4 separate regions of the Homo sapiens genome follow, and regions 1, 2 and 4 are each linked to region 3. Evidence: fine-mapped expression QTL. A gene starts in region 3. Each other region holds a variant in brackets. All regions are shown on one strand. Distances are between the middles of the regions.

Region 1 (5,747 bases), 83 kb after region 3:
AACAGATGAAGATGTTATAATATCACCTCTATTACTGATAAAGTCTCCCTTACAGTGCTAGTGGGAGCATAAATCGATATAGCCATTTTGGAAAACTAAACCTGAATATATGCATTCTCTATGCCCCAGCAATTCCACTCACAGAAATATACCCAGTAAAGTGTGTACGTATGCTCACCAAACGACATGTACTAGAATGCTCATAGTAGCACTATTTGTAAAACTGGAAAATACCCATTTGCCTGGCAACAGTAGAAGGGATCAATAAATCTTGGTATACTCACACAATAGATTATTATATAGCAATAAGAATGATCAAACCGTAATTACAGGCAACAATATAGATGAATATTGCAAATGTAACATACTGGCAAAAAAAACAGATGCAGAAGAGCATGAACTGTATGATTTCATTTATGCAAAGTACAAAAGTGGGAAAATGAATTGGGTTTTAGAAGTCAGTTCAAGATAGTTGTTGCCCTTGGGTGGGGACAGTGATTGAGAGGGAGGAGGCAGGAGACTTCTTGGGGACTAGCACTATTATTTTTCTTGAAATGAGTACTAGTTACTTGGGTGTGTTTGGTTGTGAAAATTATAGAGCGATACACAAGCAGTAAGCATCTTTACCATATATATAGTTCTTCAATTAAAAAAATTTTTAAATCCTCTCTTGATCCCGTCTTCCCATCCAACTACCACTATCTCTCCTCTTCCCTGTAAAGCAAATGTTTTTGAATGGAGTGTCTTTGCTCGCTGTGTCCAATGTCTGCATTCTCTCTTGAACCCAGTCCAGCAAACCTTTTGCCCTAGATTCTAAAAAGCTGCTCTTATAAAGATCAATGATGACTTGCATATGGCTAAACCCAATGCTCAGCTTGCCTCATTGTACTTACCAGCAGCATTCCATACAGAATATCACTCTCTGCATATTCTTTTGGTTTCTGTACACAGTATCCATCACTAGGTGAACTCATGGAGCCTCATGGCTTTAAATGCCCTGTCTGTACTGATGACTGTCTCATTTATATTTTCAGCCCAAATCTCTCCTTGGCACATCAGACTTGTGCATTCAATTGCCCACTCAACATCTCAAACATAATATATTCCAAACAGATGTCCTGATATCCTCCAAACCTGCCCTTCCCACATTCTCCTCCTTCTTATTAAGCTTCTCAGATCTACTCCATCCTTCCAGTTGTGTAGCCCCCAAACTTTGGAATAACCCTAAACTTCTCTTTTTTTTTCTCATACAATGCATCTAATCCATTAACCAGACCTGTTGATTCTACCTTCAAAATATATCCAGAATTTACCCACTTCTTGCTGCTTAGACTGCCACCATCCTGGTCCAATCCACCTTCCTCTCTTGCCTGAATTATCTCAATAGCCTTCTAGATGCTTCTTCCCTGCCCCTCACTGCCCTGCCCCTTGCCTCTGCCCTTGCTGCCCCACAACCTATTTCCTACAAAGAGCGATCCCAGTAAACAATAATCCAAATTATGTCATTTGTCTGCTCCAGACCCTCCTGTTTTCCATCTCACTTAGATGAAAAGGCAATTCCAGGCTGTGAACTTCAAGACTCTGTATGATCTGACCTCACACTGGCTTTCAAACCTCATCTTGCACACTGCTTCCCCAGTGTGCTCTGCGTTAGCCGCATGGGGATTTTTATGGGTCCCTGGACACTCCGGGCATTTCCCTGGCTCAGGGCGTTTGCATTGGCTGTTTCTGCTTACTGGAGTTCTCTTTCCCTGCTATATACATGGTTTTCTCTCTCATTTCCTTCAGGTCTTTCTTTACTCAAATGACATCTTTTTTAAAAGAGGATTTCTATCTAAAATTTTATACACATATCTCTGTATCCCCCTTCTCAGCATTTTTTTTTCTCCTTGGCACTTATCACTCTCATGTGTGTGTTTGTTCATGTATTTATTGACTGAGTGATTTTTTTCTCTCCCAATAAGCTGCAAACTCTGTGAAGACAGGGATATTTTTCCCATTTTTGCCCCATCATGCTGCAAGCCCAAGGTACAATTAGAACACATCCAATTCACTGTCCATCTACCTGTGGCACTTCAACCATGACCACAAACCAAATCACTCTTCCTGTATCACATTCCCTGAGAGACTTTGTTTTCTCCCACAGGAAAGATTTGTTTATTTTTCTGATTCAATCAAATGTACCACTAGTTTCTGCAGGATTATTTGTACCTCTTTCAGGATCCTGAGGAATTTGCTCCTGGGCCATGAAGATGGGAAGCTGAGTCAGAGTGCAGTTCTTCACCCAATCCCACAGCCACACGTGCCTGCTTGCTCACGGGATCTTCCCACTCTCCTCGGGAAGGCTTCCGAGCTGCTTCCTCAGGATGTCCTGTGATAGCAGCCTGACCTGTCAAAGCCATGCGAATACCATCTGTTCAGTTATATAACTTGAGATCTGGGAAGAATTCTCAACGTAGGATTTGCTGCCCAAATCAAATCATTTTCAGAAAGGAGATTAAGCATTCTTTGCTGGGAAAAGGAGAAATTACCAGAAAAAATTATCATTTCACTGAGTATAAACAAACCTTTGTCCAAAATACACAAATGAAAATGACAAATTTGCTTCATTAATATTTGCTTGCATTAAAAATATACACAGGGCTATGTATGGTTCAATATCTTAAGTGCAAAGTAAAATCTTAATTAGGAACAATGGAATTGTTAATTTAATGAATCTTAATTTTGTTTAGATCATTAGCCTGCAGTATAATGTCCCAAGCAGAATTTGGGGTGGGGAGCTTGGTGGTGGAAGAGGAAGTGCTCATTTCTACAGACATGACAAGATTATTAACACTAAAGAATGACTTTTCTTTCATGGGAGGGGAAGATATCTGACCCACCAGCAGTCAGACAGAAACCCTGACTTGTGATTTTAACATTACCTTATATGACCCATGGTCACCTTGTATGACCAAAGAAAACCATTTATGAAATAGCTGTCCGGAGTTCAAGATTTAAATGGTAACTTTGTAGACTAGGTTTTCTCTCATCATCTAATTTACTTGCCTTAACGCTTGTTTCTTTGCCCTTATTCCTACTGGCTCTCGAGTATAATATCCTGAGAATTTATGTTGAACAGCACTAATTTTTTCACTTGGAGCTAGCACATGTTTATGACTAGTACAAGTTTATAACTACAAAAAACAGAG[A/AT]TTTTGTCATCTTAAACTGAATTTACTGGGAATAAAATCAGTCAATTCAGAAAAGTATAACAAAGGAAATAAAAATCACCACAACTCCTACTACCTGAAGATTAAATGGTTAAAGTGTTTTGTATATTCTTCTGTAATTTTTACACCTACATGTTTTTTAAATAAAAATTAACCCTACCTATAAACCAAACAATATTATTTAACTAACAGGAGAAGAATAAATTATATTTTTTGATTGGCTGTATAGCAAAGAGAATCCTGCCATTCAGAAAAAAACAGGGTAAGACAAGGAAGGAAGCCAAATAGATGGACTGCAATGGAAGTTCACCCAGAATGAATAAATGAATGAATGAATGAATGAATGAATGGAGGAGCTATTTTACTGACTGTGGTCAGTCAGGGAACACCTATCAGAAAAAGCAGCATTTGGCCGGGGGCAGTGGCTCATGCCTGTAATCCCAGCACTTTGGGAGGCTGAGGCAGGCGGATCACCTGAGGTCAGGAGTTCGAGACCAGCCTGACCAACATGGTGAAACCCCGTCTCTACTAAAAATACAAAAATTAGCCGGGTATGGTGGCAGGCACCTGTAATCCAGCTACACCAGAGGCTGAGGCAGGAGAATCGCTTGAACCCAGGAGGCAGAGGTTGCAGTAAGCTGAGATTGCACCACTGCACTCGAGCCTGGTCAACAGAGCCAGACCCCGTCTCAAAAAACAAAAAAAAAAAGAAAGAAAGAAAGTAAGAAAAGAAAAGTAGAAACAGCCTTTGAGTAGAGACCAGTGAGCGATGGAACTCTGTAAGGATCTGGGGGAAAACTTATCTATCTGGTAGGAGGAAACCACAAGTGTGAAGGTAATGAGACAGGAGTGGAGTCAGTGAATTGGCGGAACAGAACAGCACAGAGGACCCTGGAGCTAGCCCGGGATGAGGCAGCGGAGAACAGCAGGAGACGACATGGAGGGAGACAGGTTTTTCCTTTTCCAGTTTTCTTCAGTTCTTTTGATTGACTCAGGAGAAGAGTCTTAGTTTGATATTAGCACATACTTAACACTTCTGGTGTTCACTACTCTATTTTTCAACAAAAAGACAGCAGACTTTGGGATCACAGCCTTCTGAGAGGATGGTATTTAACTAAAATATAATAACGTTGGTTTTTATTTTTTTTATTTTCACAATTACTATCTTTTCTTTTTTGATATAGGGTCTCACTCTGTTGCCCAGGCTGAGTGCAGTGACACCATCACAGCTCACTGCAGCCTCTAACTCCTGGACTCAGGAGGTGGGATCCTCCCCCCGCAGCCCCTCAAGTAGCTGGGACTGTAGGCATGCAGCACCACCTCCAGCTAATTTTTTACTTTTTGTAGAGATGGGGTCTTGCTATGTTGCCCAGGCTGGTCTCATACTTCCGGGCTCAAGCAATCCTCCCACCTTGGCTTCCCAAAGTGCTGGTATTACAGACATGAGCCACCGCACCCAGCACACAATTCCTCTCTGTTTATAGCAAGTTATGCTGGTTTCCTGTTTACAGGAGTGATAAAGTCTTTTTTAAAACAAATGTATTTAAGTTTCAAATTAAATCATCTTAAAGAAAAATATGACATAAGAAATGTCAAAAAGTGGTACATGATCAGAAGTGGCAAAAATCATAAAAGTAATTGGCAAGTGACTTAAGTTTGGGAAACACAGTTCTAATCCATCCCACCTATACCTGAACACCCTAAAGATGAATCCAAACCTATTAGAGACTTATTCCTGCTTTCTAAGATGATCACAACCTAGTTAATCTAGCTATAAATTAATCTGGATCACTAGTCAGTGATACTCCCACCTTCAAGTAAAATGGCTGCTTTTTGAGAGCTTTAATTCAGATTCTGTTCAGAAGAAATAACAGGTATCATTGTTAGTACAAGGACTGGTCATAGAGCTATATCCTGCCTGTTAACCACATAGATTCTGGCAGTGATTTCCCATTGATATCATCTAGGTAGTTTTACTGGTTTTTCCCCTAGTTGTTTCTCTTTTTTTGTTTGTTTGTTTGTTTTGACAGAGTATCGCTCTGTCGCCCAGGCTGGAGTGCAATGGTGCGACTTCAGTTCACTGCAACCTCCGCCTCCTGGGTTCAAGCTATTCTCCTGCCTCAGCCTCCCGAGTAGCTGGGATTACAGGTGGCCACCACCACACCTGGCTAATTTTTTGTATGTTTTGCAGAGGCAAGGTTTCACTACATTGACCAGGCTGGTCTTGAACTTCTGACCTCAGGTAATCCACCCACCTCAGCCTCCCAAAGTGCTGGGATTACAGGCCTGAGCCACCACGCCCAGCTCTCAGTTGTTTCTTAATTTGCCTGCCAGTTTGTTTTTTATATGATACTAATTGAAATGGAGGTCCTTCTTAAATGAACTTCTTTCACAAACAAAAACATTAGTTTTGGCAGTGATGGCTTACAAGAGTGTGTTCTATAATACCTACTTTGCAGATGCAATTTGAATTCTTCAATATGAGTTATTTGGATTTCTTTTTTCTGAAATTCTTTCTAATGAGATTTTTGTGGATTT
Region 2 (5,747 bases), 72 kb after region 3:
AAAAGGGCGCAATGGGCAGTAATGAGATGTGGCAGCCGAGTGTGAAATCCTGCCACTGGCCAGCGGCAACTGGAAACAAGGCCGAAAATAGCTCAGGCAGAATCCCAGCTTCAGGACAGGGATGGAAACACTTTTACCAAGAGGCTTTCTTTAAAGCCATGTAGAGCACTTGTGGAAATGGTATTGTGGCGTTATTTTTATTCCAAACACCCATTCCCAAGGGAACCCTGAGCCACAATGCCCTTCTCTGTTGCTGAAGAAAAGGGACTATGCTGGCAGGGCTGAGAAAGCTGTGTGAAGAGGCATTGGCAGGTGGCACCTTAGAAGGACCCGGGTGCGGGACACATCTGCAGGTGCAAGTGAAGACAAAATGCTGGCTTGTTCTCAAAACTACTTGTGTTTCTCCTTGTGGAGAATAAAAATATCCCCTTTCAATTTTATCACCAGAACTGGATGAAGGAGATCATTATGTTTCCAGTTCTCAAATCATTTCTATGAAACCCAGTGTGGCTGCCTAATAATTGAGTTCCCCAAGGAATGAATGCATTTTTTTCACCTTCTCTACAAACCTCTCACAAGCCTGTCTCCTAAAATCATGAAAATTTTCATTAAATATTAATATTCATGTTATTTTTATTGCAAAAAAAAGTATCAGAATCCTCAAACATGCTCACCAATTCCAGAGCATAAATTCTGGATCAATATCATTCAATAGAATGGTGATGGGTTTCTTCTATATGCTAAGCACTCAGAATACCAAGATGAGTTTATTCATCTTTTTAAAAATAAATTTTCTTGTGTACATTTGAGGTTTATAACATGATGTTATGGTACACATAGACAGGAAAGTGGTTTCTGTGATAAAGCAGATTAACATATCTATCATCTCACAGAGTTGCTTTTGTGTGTGTGTGACAAGAGCAGCCAAAATACACTTATTTAACAAAAATCCCTAATACAAGCTTTTTGTTTGTTTGTTTGTTGAGAAAGAGTCTCACTCCATCGCCCAGGCTGGAGTGCAATAGTGCGATCTTAGCTCACTGCAACCTCACCTCCCGGGTTCAAATGATTCTTGTGCCTCAGCCTCTCAAGTAGGTGGGATTACAGCCCAGCTAATTTTTGTATTTTTAGTGGAGACTGGGTTTCACCATGTTGGGCAGGCTGGTCTCGATCTCCTGGCCTCAAGTATCCACCCACCTCGGCCTCCCAAAGTGCTGGGTGAGCCCCGCACCTGACCCCTAATGTAAGTTTTATTGACTATAGTCCTCATGTTATACATTAGATTTCTAGATTTGTTTATATCTGCTACTTTATATCCTTTGACCCATATCACTGCATTTCCTCTCCTCCCCTTGCCCATAGTAACCACTATTTTACTCACTGTTTCTGTATATGAGACCTCTTTTTAAAACTAATCCACATATACGTGAGATCATGCAATATTTTTCTTTCTGTGTCTGGCATATTTCACTCAGCATGTCCTCCACACCCATCCACACCCATTCTTCTTTTTTTCTTTTCTTTAAGGCTGAATAAAATGAGTTTAATATGGCCTGGCTTTCAAAGAAATGGATACATAAACAAAGAATTACAATATGATGTAATAAAATAAAACTTTATATTTTATAAACAGTAAGATCGTTGCATAAGAAAGGGAATGATCAAAATGTAAGTGGGCAAAAAGGCTTCCTGGAGTAAATGGAATACGAATTTGGCTTTATGAGATGAATAGGAGTTTGTGAGGTGGCTATGTGTGGGAAGGGCATTCCAAGCAAAGGGAACAAGACGTGCAAAGGCAAAGACACACAAATGACTACCATGTGTCCTAGGCACTAAATGTGAGTCAGCACTGCTGAAGCAAAACGTGCTCTAGGAGGCAGCTGGAGAGGAAGGCAGGGCAGCAGTCAGTGGAGCACGATGCATGGAGGTGTGTTCCAAGTAACCTAACAGCAGGAGCAGACTGAAGATGATTTCTTTTCTGTTTTTATTTTGTTTAAATTAAATTAGAGTATCTATCCCTGTAAAAGTTTCATCAGTTCCATTCTCATATGAATTCTTGAGTGGGAGGGACAGAGGCATTGACTTCATCATGCTATGAGTTGAGCATCACCTGTGTCCCCCGAGGGAAGTGTGTCATACAAGTGAACAGTCTTTCATGGCATCATGGCAAGGAAAGGGAGTGCTGCCTACGGGTTGCAGAGAGACAAGGGGTTTAAAGCGGGAGTATATGTTGGTCAGATTCACGTTTAGCAAGATCCCCCTGATAGCACTGTGATGAACTGTTTGTATTGGATGGTGGGAGGCATAATGGGTTAGTATTTTAGGGCTTCTAAACAAATTGCCACAAACTAAGAGGCTTAAAACAACAGAAAAATTATTTTCTCATCATTATAGAGACCAGAAGTCTGAAATCAAGGTATCATCACACTCCTCCTGGAGGCTACAGGGGAGAATCCTTCCTTGCCTTTTCAAGCCTCTGGTGGCTATTGCCAGTCCTTGGCTTCCTTGGCTCGTGGCCACATCCATTCATTCTCTGACTCCATCTTCATATTGCCTTCTCCTCTGTGTGTTTGTTGTGTCCTCTTCTGTCTCTTAGAGGGACACTTGGGACTGGAGTTAAGGCCCACTGGGGAATCCAGGAAGATCTCATCTCAAGATCCTTAATTACATCTGCAGAGACTTTTTCCAAGTAAGGTAGCATTCACAGTTTCCAGGGATTTGGACATGGATATATCTGTGTGGGGACCACCATTCAACCCATCACACAGAAGAATCTTATTTCTGAACCTATGATCAGCAAACCAACTGCATTAGGATCTCATGGAGTGCTGCACTTTATGAGTTGCACACTACTAGACCGGAGATGCGGACTCAGGAGGTGTCAGCCAGCCACCATGAGGACAACCTTGTGATGAGCGTGGGAACTAGAATTAGAATGATCAGGAGTCACTAGTGACTTGAAAGTAGAGATGAGGAGGATGAGGTTGAACATAATGACTTCTGGGTGTCATCACGGGACAACTTACTGAGATGAGAATGCAGGGAGAAAGCATAGTATCCTAGGAATCTCAACAGTTGGAAAGACTAGTGAGATCATCCTGTCTAGCCCTTACACATGATTCAGGATTTCCCTTTTTGGTATCCTTTACAAATGATCATGCAACTTTGATTTAAGCAACTGACTTTACTGAAACCAAAGTTGCATGATCATTTGTAAAGGATTTGTCTGACTGTCTTGTCTGTTTCCTTCACCAGCTTATAAACTGAATGAGAAAAGAGGCCACGTTT[C/G]TTGGGTTCACAGTTATTTCCCCAGAACCTGATAGAGTACCTGTAAGCATGAAGGTTCTCAATATGTATTTTTTGGGGGGACTTTTGGTGGTGGTGGCTGTTGTTAAAACTACTTTATTGAGATATGATTGTCATACAAAAAGCTGTACATATTTAATGTATACAGTTTGATGAGTTTGGAGATGTGTTCACCCATGTAAATATGTGTTTTTGAATGAATGGGTGAATGAATGAGCAACTTTGGTGACAGGAAGATGTAGAAACTAGGTAAGAATTAGAATGGTTAACAAGAGTTATTCCAGTGGTTACTCTTCCATTTGGGGCAGCTCTAATTTCATGTTCCTCTTTATACAGTTGCTTATTTTGTTCCCTAGGTCACTCAGAGTGAGTCTAGCCCTTCCTCTATGTGAAAATTTATTTCAAATACAAAGAGAACTGTTGTGCTCCCTAAGTCTCCTCCTCTCTGGCTAAGTATCTTCATTTACTTTAACCACATGGCCTGTTTTAGTCCTGTTTTAGAAATGCATCACAATTCTAGTTGTTCTCCTTTCATTCACTCAACAAATATTTATGAGCATCCACTGAGTGCTCTGTACCAGGGCTCTGTATGCAGTAGGGGGAAAAAAGAGACATGCACTTGCCTTCCACCTCATCAGTGTTCCTCTGAAGTTATTAAACATAGCAATCCCCAGAACTAAGAAAAGCAGATGCCCCTTCCTTTGTACTGGGTATGTTCTCTTTTACTACTACAGTATATCTAAATAAGAGATACTGGTTCTTCCACTTGCTTTTTTGCAGTACTAGATGTGGTATTTCTTGTTGTTTGTACAGCCATGGACCATGAATTAAGTGTGACTTTTCTTTTGGGTACAAGAGCATATATACATAGAAGGATATAGATGGTATGCACAACACAACCATCTACATTCATCCATCCCTTACAAATAGAATACGTGTTTGCACTCTTTGATAAAGGTAATGCAATGCTCAGAAAAGCGCCCCAGCATCTAGAGGAGCAGGGTGTTTTTCAGGCATCTGTGAGAAACAGATGCTCTGTCAAGCCAGGGACAGGGGCTCAGGTTACATCCTGTGTTCAGTGAAGCACATCAGAATCATTTGCCTAGTACAGCCTCAAGTAATTGTTTTATTTCTTATTCTTCTATTATTTTATGCATTTTTTCTACTTTTAATAATGAAATAAACCCATAATAAAACAAAAATAATTCAACAAAACTGATGGGATTTTTTTTTTTCATTGCAAATGTCTGTTTAACTAATTTGTTCACTAATGGAGGCTCCCAAGCTTCAGAAAAGATATTCTCCTTTAAGGGAACACAGATGTTTGACTTAAAATTCCATATTTGTGACATTTCAATATTGGTATCCTCATTTTTTTTTTACTAATGAAATTGTAAGAAAACAAAATCTGCTTGTCCTACAGCAATTTGGCTGTGATTCAAAAACTTTTTATTAAAATGAAGTAATATGTTCTGCAAATCTAATTGCAGAGGAATTAGACACACTAAACCAAATAGTCATCTGTGATACAAAATGAAATAAACTAGAGAAAAACCATTTCAGGAAATAGACAGTAGAAAGAGGTTCTAAGGAATGGCTGTCTGCTTCTATTGTGATCATTTCTGTGTTCAGTTTTGATGTTTTTTAATGAAATATTTTAACCTTAGACCTCATTTTCTTTATTTTCCTTTTTGCCCTGTCTTATGGTATGATCAGACCTCATTTTTAAATGACACATTTATTTCACTAACATTGTACTTATGTAGTTGAAGTGAATGGATTAGGATCATTGACCAACTTAATTGTATATAAATGCAAATGACAATATATCTGTTGGAGTTATAATAATGGTTAGAAAATAGGGAAGAATGACAAGAGAAGTTTAGTGGAAGGTGGGTATGGACATAACGAGAGTGCATGGGTAAAACTAGCCAAAATTGTTTGGCTGCTTTAATTTGCCTCAGTCTTCAACTTTAAATAAGAAGATTTAATCAATTAGATTACTTGCAGTATAACTATTTCAATTCTCCAAACACCATTAGGTTATCTGTTCTTCGGGCCAAATTCAATGCCACGTACAAGGTAAATGCTGAATATTTGCAGAATGAATGAATGAACTAATGGACAAATAAATGCCACACTTCTTCCTTTTTTTTTGTCTTGATAGGAGTGTAGGTCAGTAAAGACCTCAAAGTTCTGATGCCTGTAATCGAGATACAAACATTTGACTCAACTAATAGAGAACTATCTTTTGCATTAGAGTTATAAACAGAACACTAGATGAATTTTCATATTATTCTTCTCTAGTAAAGACATTAGGTCACAATTAGCATTTACTTGAAATGTTTGTATATTTAAATTTCTCTATATATTTATATTATTAAATTGTTGTGACTAGAATGTAGTTTTATTTATAAATGGTTTCCAAACTATACTCTAGC
Region 3 (5,747 bases):
GTCCTCTCTGCCTGCAATGCTCATTCCCTGCCCCCATGTTCCCTAGCAAACTCTCCTGCGACCGTTAAATTACAGCCTAAAAACATCCGCTTCTCTTTTCCCCTGGGGGCTGCCAGTTCCCTGGGGTAGAGTTCAGTCTGTTGTGTCCAAAGCCTAGCCAGTAGATGCTCCCATGTTTGTTGAATGAACAGAAGTTGGGACGGGAAACCAACAGACGCTCAGGACTGGGGTTTGTTTTTGTTCCTGTAAAACTGGATTGGTTCTGCAGAGGCACAAACAAGCCCGTTGATTTAGATCTATCGAGGAATTGGGGTAGGGGCAGGGGTGGCAGTTTTGCTAAGAAGAAAAGCAGGTGAAAGTGGGAGATTCCAAAAGAGACCAGAGAGAAGGCAGTGTGTCCTGCCCAATCTGCCGCTAGGGTCAGAGACCAGCTCCCTAGTCACACTCGGCCAAGGCAGGCTGCCGGGCTGACTCCAACTCTAAACAAAGCCAGGCAGCCGCCCAGGTGGGTGAAGGCTGCAGATTGCGCTCAGGCGTGACGCCGGGGTGCAGGTGGGAGCGACGCCCGGGTGCGTGGGTGCAGCGCTCGCCCGCCCGCGGTTAGGCGCACCGCGGGAACCGGTCAGGTGCGCCGTGTGGGGCGGGGCGGAGGCAGGGCGTGCGCCCCCAGGCTGGTGCCTGGGGCAGAGGATTCGCCTGCTTGACGCGCTGATGCCTTGATTTGGTCTGACAAGTGGAGGCTGCTTTGAGAAGCGGCCTGTATTTTTGACATTCAGGAAGCTAGAAATAACCAGCTGGGCTCCTGGCGCTCTGGCCGCAAATGTCTTGCGCTTTCCAGGCAACTGCCAGATTGAAGGGGCTTTTCCCCAATGTAGACCTGTGCTCTGTGTGCTAGGAGGCCGAGGTTCCAGTCCAGGCTCGGCTTCTGACTCCCTACTTTAGGAGGAATCACTGAATTGACTGCAGCTCGGCTTCTGCTCTGTAAAATGGGGCTGTTGCTAGCTGAGCCTCTTCTGCCTCTGGTAGAAAATGATTCCAAGTGGCTGCCCTGTCCACCCTAATCCCATGGCCCGAACTTGATGTCTGCTGCTTCTAGAAGCCTAGTGCTCCAAATATCTGCTCTGGGAGGGACTTGCAGATGATCCTGATTGGAAATGAGGCTGATTAACCTTTTGTGTATCATTGACTCTAGGACAATCTGTTGAAACCTAGGGGCTCTTACCCTAGACAAATTAACACACCAGCCAGATACAGCTTACAAGGGCAGAGAGTTGCTGGTTTGAACCACAGACCCCTGGTTTAACATCTGTAATCTAGTCAACCCCTCCTCTTTCTTGAAGGCTGAACCAAACACGAAGGGTTTTCCCCACCTTCCAATCCTCATACATGCAGACACCCCCTTTTCCTGCTTTCTCCTTCAGTCATCTTCCTCACCATCCCCCATGCTTGGGCACTCTCAGGAGGGAAATTGTCCTATAAATATCTGTAAAAGGCATGGTATGTCCTGTAGCAGAGAAAGCAAAAAATAAAAATATAATTCCTCCACCCCTGGCATGGCACGTGCAGAGCTCTGCCTGATCCTTCTCTCCCACAAGCCTCGGGGGTGGGTAAACAAAAGTGAGAGGTGAAGCTGCTGCAGCGAAGTACCCCTTCAAAATCTTCAGTACCCTTCAGAGCCAGCGCTGTCATCACTATCACATAAACTGTACAACTCCAACGTCAACCAGCAGCCGCCTGGCTGGCAGCAGGAAGAGCCAATGCAATTTTGCACAGTGGCTTGCTTGCCCAAGGTATTGCCTGGCAAATGGGCTTCTTGTGCAATGGGGAACCACAGGGAGGGGCCTCTTAAATGTACCTCAAAGAAACAGCTCTAACAATGGATGATTCAACAGGCTAGTAATTGGCGCTCACTCTTACCACATTGTTTTGATAAAACGACATAGCCCAACTGGGGATATGAAGGCAGTAAGTAGAAAAGCTAACCTCTTGCTACTCAAATTGTGGCTGAGAACCAGCGACATCCCATCACCAGAAGCTTTATAGAAAAGCCAGGCTCTGTCCCAGACCTATTGAAAGGAGATCTGCATTTTAACATGATTGCGAGAGGATCCACATCTTAAAGTTTCAGAGGCCTAATCCAAAGTCTTCTGATAATGATCATTAGAGTCCCAGCCACCCCCGACTTCCCCCTGGGAAAACCACAACAAATAGAACAAATTCCTCCAAGCTCTGCTCATAAGAAGAACCCACAACCCACAGACACCCCCTCACTCAACTAGAGACCTCACCCACCTGTTTGCAGAGTCACCCACCTTGGGCTACTTCTTTTCTACTATTTAATCTTCTGGGAAAACAGAGGTCTTCTATTTGGAGATAAAAATGACAAAGGAGAACCTCCTGAACAGCATCCAGTTTGCTTTTAGCTTTAGCCATCTCTCTGACCTCAGTGCTGCTGGACTCAGTTCCAAGATCTAACTGTCAAATGCTTTAGGGGAAACGGGAAGAGAAGTCCCTGGAGTAACCCATGTGCGCAGCCTGGCACTGTTTTCACTTGCCTTTGGAAATGAAGGTGCAGAAACCATGGGAGGTAAGGAGGGCACAGACTAGTGACTTCCAGTGTGGGACAGAGGGGAAAAGATGGAAGAGAAGTGCAGAAAACCACTCGGGAAAAGACAGGCTGGAGTGATGCCTGCTGAGACAGGGCCCTGATCTCCCAGGACTTCCCTTTCTGCCTGTTCTGTAGAAATGTCTCGGGTTTTGTGGTTTAGGAAAAGAGATGCTTAGCAAGCTTGTAGAAAATGTAATGTGGGCACTTTGTTGCTGTCCTGGCTTTTAAAGGACTCTGAAGCAGATCAGCTTCAAGGTATTGGCTATTCTGTTTGCAGCCTTAGAAAGACATCCTTGATGTTTTATTGTTCTGCCTTTGCTAAGAGCTGGAAACTCTCCCTGGGGAAATGGCTCACCTTGAAAGAGATGCTATCGTAGCTGAAAATGTTTTAGCTTCACTTCCAATCTCTGGTTCCTTGTGGGAAGTAACTGCTGCTGTGGTATATATGCCCTGTGCCTTTTATTTTTACCATCTTTACCTCGGTGGACACAGCTGGTTGAAACTCAGTAAAACTTATGCTTCCATGGAGATTGATTCAGACAACAGGAAAAATAAGTGTAGAAAAAAACTGCACAGTACAAGGGCTAGATTCAGGTTGTAGAACAAAGTGATTATTACTTAGAATCCTGGATTAGCAAGAGAATAAGAAAGATGCTGAGATTACCTAGTGTTATCACCATCCACGTGAAACGTAGAATAAAACTTTTTCCCCACCACATAGATATTGGGCAGTTTATTATAGATGCTACAAAGGGATTTATTATATTTTTCCCAAAATGGTTAATTAGAGGCATCCCAAATTACAACTCCTTTAGCATAACTCCCAGCTCCATGCAGCCTACTTACTAAGGACCCAGCTACTGACAGCTCAGCTCTTTGCCAATCCAACTTTTTTTCCCCATATGCTCAAACTTTTCTTCTCCAAGAAGACTTCCTGAATGATCCCAATTCATAGGGATCTCATCCTTAATGCAGGGGAAATTCACTGTTCTGGAGTAGTCTACCATACCATCACGCTCTTCTTTTTGTGTAATCCTGGATTTCTTCTCCAGTTGTTTTATTCTTGCCTGTCTACACAGATAGATCAGTAGCCTTCAATAGTCTGCATCTCCTGTTATCTTGCAGCCTCCTACTATAAACAGTAGGTGCTTTACTTATGCCAGTTGGGTTGACCTAGACAGTAGTCTCTAAGTAGCAGTCCTTGGCTCATCCTTCTGAAACCAACGAGCTCTTAGGCAGGCTGAGAAAGGGTTAGGACTGTTCACTCTGGGACATCCTTGGCTCTGTATGAGTGTTGTTTTTAAAAGCAGGGATTTTGTCTCCAGTGCATTGAAGAGATAAAACCCCATTGTCAGCATATTTCTTCAGGATCTTTCTGTGTTAGATCTCACTGCCAAGCCAGAGTCCCCACACACAGACTCTCACTTTTCCCCCATCAATAGGCTGAAGTGAGGCAAGTAGTAGAATGTGCTCAAATCATGGCCTATTCTTAATAAAAGAAACAAGGACAGCTTGGGGCTGGCTCGTCTCTTCTCAAATTCTCCTAGTGTTCTGAACCAAATGTATGAAACGAATAGATTTGTTTTATTCGCAGGTATTAATGCTTCTCCGAAAGCAGTTGTTTGGGTGGCTGGAATATCAGTAGTCATTGACCAATAAGGCTTGCAGGTGTGAATCAGAGCAGTATTCTGGACTTCCAGAGTAGAGCTGCCATCTACTACTCTACATCACCTTCATCCTTACAGAATCACTGAGACCATTCATTCATTCACAAGCAGTTGTGTCTGCTACATGCCAGGCACTTGTAGTAGGCATTAGAGATACAATGGCAAGTGAAACAGACACTGCATGTAATCTACTGAGAGAGACTGGGAATTAATTCAATAAGTAAAAGTAAGTATATAATTATCAATTGTGATAAAGGCCCTGAAGCAAAAGAATAGGATGTTCTACAAGAATATTACAAGAGCTTTATCTGATCTAACGTGTATGGGGAGGGGAAGCCTCAGGGAACGCTTCTTAGGGGAAGTGACATTTGAGCTGAGCGTTGAAAGAAGAATAAAAATTAAAAAGTACAGAGGGGGCCAGGTGCAGTGGCTCACACCTGTAATCTTAGCACTTTGGGAGGCCGAGGCAGATGGATCACTTGAGGTCAAGAGTTCGAAACCATCCTGGCCAACATGGTGAAACATCATGTCTACTAAAAATACAGAAAAATTAGCTGGGTGTGGTGGCAGGGTGCCTGTAATCCCAGCTACTTGGGAGGCTGAGGCAGGAGAACTGCTTGAACCCAGGAGGCGGAGGTTTCGGTGAGCCAAGATCGCACCACTGCACTCCAGCCTAGGCGACAGAGTGAGACTCTGTCTCAAAAAAAAAAAAAAAAAAAAGTGAAGAGGGGTTAGAGAGTGCCCAGGATACAAAGAGTTAGTTCATTGGAGGAACTGGAGTAAAGTCCTTGTGGCTGGATTAAAGGGGACGAGGAAAACCAAGATATAAAGAGGTAGGCAGGGGCTGGATCACATGTGCACACAGTTTTGAAGACTTTGGCTTTTATTTTGGAACAGTGGAAGGCTGTTTTAAGCAGAGGATGAGAACATTAAATTTATGTGTCCAGAAGATTGCTCTGATGAGACAAGCGGTGAACAAAAACATCATTACTCAGGTCTCATCCAACTCTTCCATTGTATATTCTAATAAACCACCCAAGTTCTGCTTTCAGAGCTCTGAGCCAAAGTGAGTTATACCTCCCCAGGCCCACTGAAAATCCCAGAGAGCTTACTGAATGGCGTGGGGGCCCTGGTAAAACTCACCGTTCAGGCATTTGAATCTGGGCCACTCTATTACTATCAGCATTTTGCCTCCACTCCCAAGGAAGAAATCCTTAAAATTATAACCTTTGGGTCCCCATGCCCAGGCAGGCTGACTTCTCTTGGATCACAATAATCATGGTTTTGACTATGAATTGCCGATCCCAAGTTAAATGATTAACCCAAGGTCAATGAGCTAGTCAGCTGCCAAACCAAGGACAGATTTTCAGTTCCCTGAACTCAAGGCAGATGCACTTCTCAGGAATGCTGTCAGAGGCTTAGAAAAAGAAAGTGTTCCATGTTCCCAAAATATGTAAACTTATTCTTTGATA
Region 4 (5,747 bases), 32 kb before region 3:
TTACCTTTTTAAATGAAAGGTATTATTATTATTCTATATCTGGGGAAACTGGTCAGACACCTGTTTATGTTACATGCCATAGAGTTACAGATGTTAAAGACCTCAGGGCTTCATCTGGCGTGATGTCAGCGAGGGCCTACATTCAGGGTTGGGGAGGGTGTGTACTGTCCAGCATTCCTCTAAAAGTGTGTGACTGGCAAGGCAGGCTCCAGCATCTTCTGACCACTAATCTAATATTACTGTCCCCACAGGCCCTCCCTGTCATCACCTTTACCACTGCCCTCTCCACCCGCAACACCCCCGAGGTTGTGGACTTGTGAGTTCTTTGTGTATAGCTGTTCAAACATTTCCTATAGACGTGGGTAGTGGACAAAGGACTTGCTTGTGAGAACTTTTCCCATGGAGTGCAGAATCAGTGGGTGCGGGGGTAGCTTGAGCACACTTAGTTTTTAGCCCAGGATTTCTACTTGAAAAGAATTCCCCAAATCATTAACCAGTAATCGCACATCTAAAAGTAACTTTATATGCACCCAAATAGGCACACTGGGAAGACTATTTTTCTTGCTTCCCCTTCTGTCTTTCTCATCTTTGCTTCAAATGTTTCTGCTCAATACTTAACGTGTGCTTGCCTCAAAAGCAGCCTGACCTGCGACTCGCAGAGAATGGAGTATTCACACTGGCAGGATCCTCAGAAATTAACACAAAAAAGGCATATGACGATGACACACACATTTGTGTAAAGAAAAAATAAAAGGCATTCCAGCTGTTATTTCTTAATTTTTTTTAACTTGGTTTGGGAATATATACTACCTGTTTTCTGGTGTCAACATGCCATCAGGTTTCTTAGGCTGACTAAATCATCCCAAAATGCTGATAATGATGAGACAAAAGAAAGTCTATCATTTTTTTAGGGCTTCTGAGGTTCCACTGAGTTTTGCCCTCATCTAGGTCCAGAAGGGCTTAGGGAAGTCCCAGGCGAGTCAGCAGAGCTCAGGAAGCTGAAGCCTTGTCTCAGAGGTTAGTGCTCCTTTGCTGAATCATCTCCAGCAAGAAATCACGTGACTCAGGGTCTACTCAGGTGAAGTCGGCACCCTTGTCTTTGAGCTCACACAGGTGGCTGAGCTAAATAAGTGCTGAAAGGAGCTGGGTGCACTCTCCTGAGTCACCTTTGTTGACTCTGGAAGCACTGTAAACTTGGCATCAGAAGGAGATTATAAAGTGCTTTTGTTCCTAAGCTTTATAAAGTGTGTGTGTATGCATGTGGGTTTCTCTGTCATCCAGCCTCTCAGATTTCATCATCCGAGCATTGTCTGCAGGAATCCTGTTTGCCTGTACGCACAAAGGAGGGAGAACCACAGTTAATTCGGGGATCCTCTTTTAGCCCTGAGTGTGTCCCACATCTGTCACCAGGCAGTGAATTCCAGGAGCATTGACTGTCTTCCTGTTCATTTCCCTACTCCCCTCCTGGGAGAGGCTGGAATGTTCAAGGAAGCCAGCAAAGGTGGTCAGCCAGGAGAAGGCTGGGGAAGAGGAGGGAAAAATGGGACCCGAGTAACGCAGAGGATCCAACCCCAGATCATTAGGGCTGGTTTTTCAAACACTGTTAGGGGAAATCCAAAGAAAGTTATCAAAAGATCCTTGAGTAAGAGGAGTGGTTAACATGCAACCTGGCAGACTGTTGCCAGGACTGGAATACCTGTCTGAGGAAAGGAAGGTGCCCCACAGGCCTCTTACCAAAACCCCTAGTGAGGTTAACACCCTTCAGAAAAGGAACCGTTTGCTCACAGATCAAGGCCAGTGTCTGCAGAAAACAGAAAAACACTGCTCTTCCCAGAGATTTTGTATTTGGGTCTTTTTAAGTCATATAATTTTACTAAAGTTCTTGATCTCTACTTCTTTTTCCCTCATTAAATTGTAAGTTTCCTAAGGTTGGAAGTCCTTACATTTTGATAGCAGTGTAAAGGATTTTTTAAAATGTATTTTTAATAGAGTACTCATGCTGCATGTCTCATTTATCTCCATCCCTGCCAGGAAGATAAAGATGTCAAAGCTTTTGTAAAATGACCACGGAAACTTTTCCTGTGTGGAGATTTGCTAACCGGTGTCTGTGGGTCAGAAAAGCTTTTTGTTTCGAGTTAGAAAAACTCTTGTCAACAAAAGTATTTGACTTTGTTGTTTTTTGTTTGTTTGTCCTTGCCAACTATCAAAGGTCAGTAATTTGGGGCAGTTGATCATTAGATTTGGTTTGGATGCCAAAGATAATGCGCATCCAGGATAAAGAAGGGTACTGGCCTTGATTTCATCAGAGGAGGATAAAGGACATTGTATAGTCCCCACTAGAGAATCTTTGTTCAGCACTCACTTCTCTTCAGTAGCTACATTTGGGGAATCATACCTGGAAAAAAGTAGTTCGTATAGCTTGGGCATGTAGGGTAGCAGCAGCTTTTTCTTAACACTTGGAAGTCATTGGAGAGCATTGAAATCCGCCCCATCAGTCAGAGCTGCTTGAGACTGGTTTGTCAGGAATAGAAGCATGTTGTCTAACAACGGGCATTGGCACAACTGCATGACCTTGGGTTTCCATCTCCGAGACTTGCCTCTAACCTTTACCTACGGTTAATCAACATTGTCCCATGACCAGAAAGAAGATACAAGGAAGCAATAATGATTATAAAACCCAGGAAAGGCAGGGTGTTGGGAGCCTTGGAAAGGAATTGAGTATGTGCTTATGAAGGGCTGCTGGATTCCAGTCACAGACAGCATGGAAAACACAGCCAGCAAACCCACCACGGATTTGAGCACTGCCCCTGCCCGCTAGAGGAACAGTATAGGGCATTTAGTGTACTGAGTTTCATCGAGAGAAAATAAAGTACACTGTGTAGTGTGTCTCTGGAGATATCGCACAGAATATTCTGATGCTGGTCAGTTACAACCTGCCAGGTAAGGCACTGACCCACCGGCATTCTCAAATATACCCACATGCCCACTTCCTCCATCACTGGCTCAGGGAGATCAGCTTGAGCAAGTTTATTTCACTTTATTTTTAATAAAGAAAAGCCCATTTCAGACTCAAGGAAAACAAAGCATCTGTAGCTGAGGGAAGGACAATCTTCAAAATGCCAGCTTTTTTTTTTTCCTCCCAGAGTTTTTAGTGATAAATGCAAAAATAGAAGAAAGAAAAGAGTCCCTTGATATGGGCACAGACTGTGGAGGCCACTGGTGTGGCCACCCACCCACCTGACGCCGGACAGGCCAGTCCGGCTCTGCTTCACGTGTTTTCAATGACACAATGCTGTTCCTGCCAGGGAGCACTCTCATCACTTAATGGTACTGAGTATTACAACCACATTACGTGTTTTAGTTTTTCTTATGATGTATTTAGATATGCTGCCTTTAACTTCCACTCCCTGAACTTATTTCTCCCTGAAATTATTTCTCATCTAATCCCTCTTCTGGCCGACAGCTCTTTGAGTATTTGAAAATTTTAAGTGTCCTTCTATCTTTTCCAGCAAAAAGACCCTCAGTAGTTTGAAATAAAACCAGGTGTCAGGCTGAAGGATGCCTCGGATTTTTTCCAGCCCTATTACTTTT[C/A]TTTCCCTTCACTTACCACCTGCACTGTATGTACTTCTCAGCCCTTCTCCTTCCATAGAATCAGAGGAAAAAGAATGTCACATGAGCCAGCAAAGAAGTACAACACAAGGAAACACACAGAGTGCGTGAATTCTCATCAGATGAAGTCCTGAGTGTCATTTATTAGGTGAAAGTAAAGTAAACTGTGTAATGATTCTCCTCACCTGTCGGTCCAAGTATCTTAACCCAGAATCCAAATAAGAAGATTGGTAGCCTCAAGGGGAAGTCTAGCGTAGGGACTGAGAGCAAAGGCCTGAGTTCAAATCCTGACTGTAGCACTCCCAAACTGTGTGACAGGTTACAGATGGGTCTGTTTCTCAGTTTCCTAATCTTTAAATTAGGAATAATAACCACAGTTGCTTTAAGGATTATATCCAATGAATTTGGAACACTTAATGCCTATGCAACAAAGGAGTATGCAGCATACATATATGGTAGTAATGGCTACCACTTCTTAAGCTGTAACTTGTATCAAACGGTATCATTCTCTACTCTCTCCACTCCTGCAGCTTCCCCCTTCTCAAACCAGTCTGGATACCTGGCAGGGTGGTCCATTGCCATGAGTGTGCAGGTAACTAGTTCCAGCCCTCCCCAGCAAATTCCATCCAGATCCAATCTTAGCAGGATAGAGCACCTCTCCTTCTCTTGGCTCGTCCAGTATTCCATAGCAGCACCATTCGGTATAAGAACCTAGACTTGGGAAGATTACAGTTTGTTTCCCCAGAGAGATTCAGGAAGTCTGTTGTCTGTCCTTTCCACCCTACCAAGCCCCATCCCACCCCCAGTGGACTGTCATCAGCCCCATCTTGCATTTAAATGTCTGTCACTGCCTTCTCCTATGGAAAAGTGACTTATCAATGCCAGGTCCAAGCCTGGTGTCTCTCCCATACTGTGCAGCCACATCCCTGCATGACCACTGCCCTGAGCTGGAGGGTGCTGCTAGCACGGGGTGTCTCCAGATCTCCCCAACAGCTGGCAGGAGGGGTATAAAAGGAGAAGGTTGGTCTTCATAACTGGGTCAGAATCTGCGTGTGCCAGCAGCATCCTTCAGACAGACACGCGCCTGCAACACGCATGCGTGGTGTGCTTCTCGTCAGCCCCAGGTGGCCATTAGGGTCTATGGTCATGGCGAGGTTGGGCGTCATGGCTGTGAACCGCACTCTATTCTGTGTCCTGTGCTCTTTCTCTGCCCTTTCTCCCCAGGACCCTCTCTAGAGCCATTAAATGCCTTTTCCCCATTTAGGATCATCGCTCTGGAATATTGGCAGGAAGGTTCTGTGGCATAGTTTCCTTGCCTTCTAACTTGCCAGCATTAGCTGCTAACTCTCTCTCTGCCCTTTGTTTAAGGTCTGAAATTGAATGAATGGAGAAGGTCATTTTGTTTGCCCAACAGCCACATCCAACCATTAGGCAGAAAATACAGTGTTCTCTGGCTCCTGGAAGAAAATCTTATTAGACTAATTGCTTTATTTATATAACTTGTCCTCTTCCTATGAAATCAGACAGATTTTGAAAGAGGAAAAAAATACTTGTGGCCATTACTTATATTTTAGTGAGTAAAGTACATTTGGGCCCAGTTATTTCAAGACTCATAATGACACAGCGTTAAACTCTATAATCTGGAACATCCAACAACTCAAAACTGAAGCTGCCTCCTGTGTGCCCACAAGATGTGATAAGCACCATACCTGACACCAGATTTGCAAAGAAGCTGCTCCACTGCACCCATCTTGCTGCATTTAGTTTCTCTGTCCTATTGTTAATGCAGATATAGTTGCACATTAAAACCTATTGTTTGTAGGCCGGGCGTGGTGGCTCACACCTGTAATCCCAGCACTTTGGGAGGCCGAGGCAGGCGGATCACTTGAGGTCAGGAGTTCAAAACCAGGCTGGCCAACATGGTGAAACCCCGTCTCTACTAAAAATACAAAAATTAGTCGGGCGTGGTGGTGCACACCTGTAATCCCAGCTACTCGGGAGGCTGAGGAAGGAGAATTGCTTGAACCTGGGAGGGGGAGGTTGCAGTGAGCCAAAATTGTGCACCATTGCACTCCAGCCTAGACAGCAAGAGCGAGACTCCATATCAAAAAAAAACAAAACAAACAAAAAACTATTGT

Evidence for each region. PIP is the estimated chance that this variant, and not a neighbour inherited with it, causes the effect.
Region 1: its variant is the best candidate, but not a certain one, in a credible set for the expression of LINC03033 in whole blood (TOPMed, PIP 0.72).
Region 2: its variant is the best candidate, but not a certain one, in a credible set for the expression of LINC03033 in whole blood (INTERVAL, PIP 0.61).
Region 4: its variant is the best candidate, but not a certain one, in a credible set for the expression of LINC03033 in lung (TOPMed, PIP 0.76).

The regions. Positions count from the first base shown.
Region 1 is chr14:61,651,403-61,657,149 of GRCh38, forward strand. It overlaps LINC03033 (long intergenic non-protein coding RNA 3033), which reads left to right. Exons shown (of 3, transcript NR_039985.1): 3 at 2,221-3,311. Among named protein-coding and RNA genes, the nearest start is that of HIF1A, 41 kb to the right of the region's middle. The variant A/AT (reference allele first, on the strand shown) is at 3,192.
Region 2 is chr14:61,640,669-61,646,415 of GRCh38, forward strand. All of the region lies in intron 1 of LINC03033 (long intergenic non-protein coding RNA 3033), which reads left to right. Among named protein-coding and RNA genes, the nearest start is that of HIF1A, 52 kb to the right of the region's middle. The variant C/G (reference allele first, on the strand shown) is at 3,289.
Region 3 is chr14:61,568,174-61,573,920 of GRCh38, forward strand. LINC03033 (long intergenic non-protein coding RNA 3033) reads left to right here and starts at 2,367. Exons shown (of 3, transcript NR_039985.1): 1 at 2,367-2,587. LINC01303 (long intergenic non-protein coding RNA 1303) reads right to left here and starts at 2,480. Exons shown (of 5, transcript NR_110416.1): 1 at 2,313-2,480; 2 at 1,371-1,504. RefSeq lists enhancers at 72-573, 574-1,073 and silencers at 415-484, 565-724, 1,465-1,657.
Region 4 is chr14:61,536,578-61,542,324 of GRCh38, forward strand. All of the region lies in intron 12 of PRKCH (protein kinase C eta), which reads left to right. It overlaps PRKCH-AS2 (PRKCH antisense RNA 2), which reads right to left. Exons shown (of 3, transcript NR_188139.1): 3 at 1-1,329. Among named protein-coding and RNA genes, the nearest start is that of PRKCH-AS2, 6.0 kb to the right of the region's middle. RefSeq lists an enhancer at 722-1,921. The variant C/A (reference allele first, on the strand shown) is at 3,592.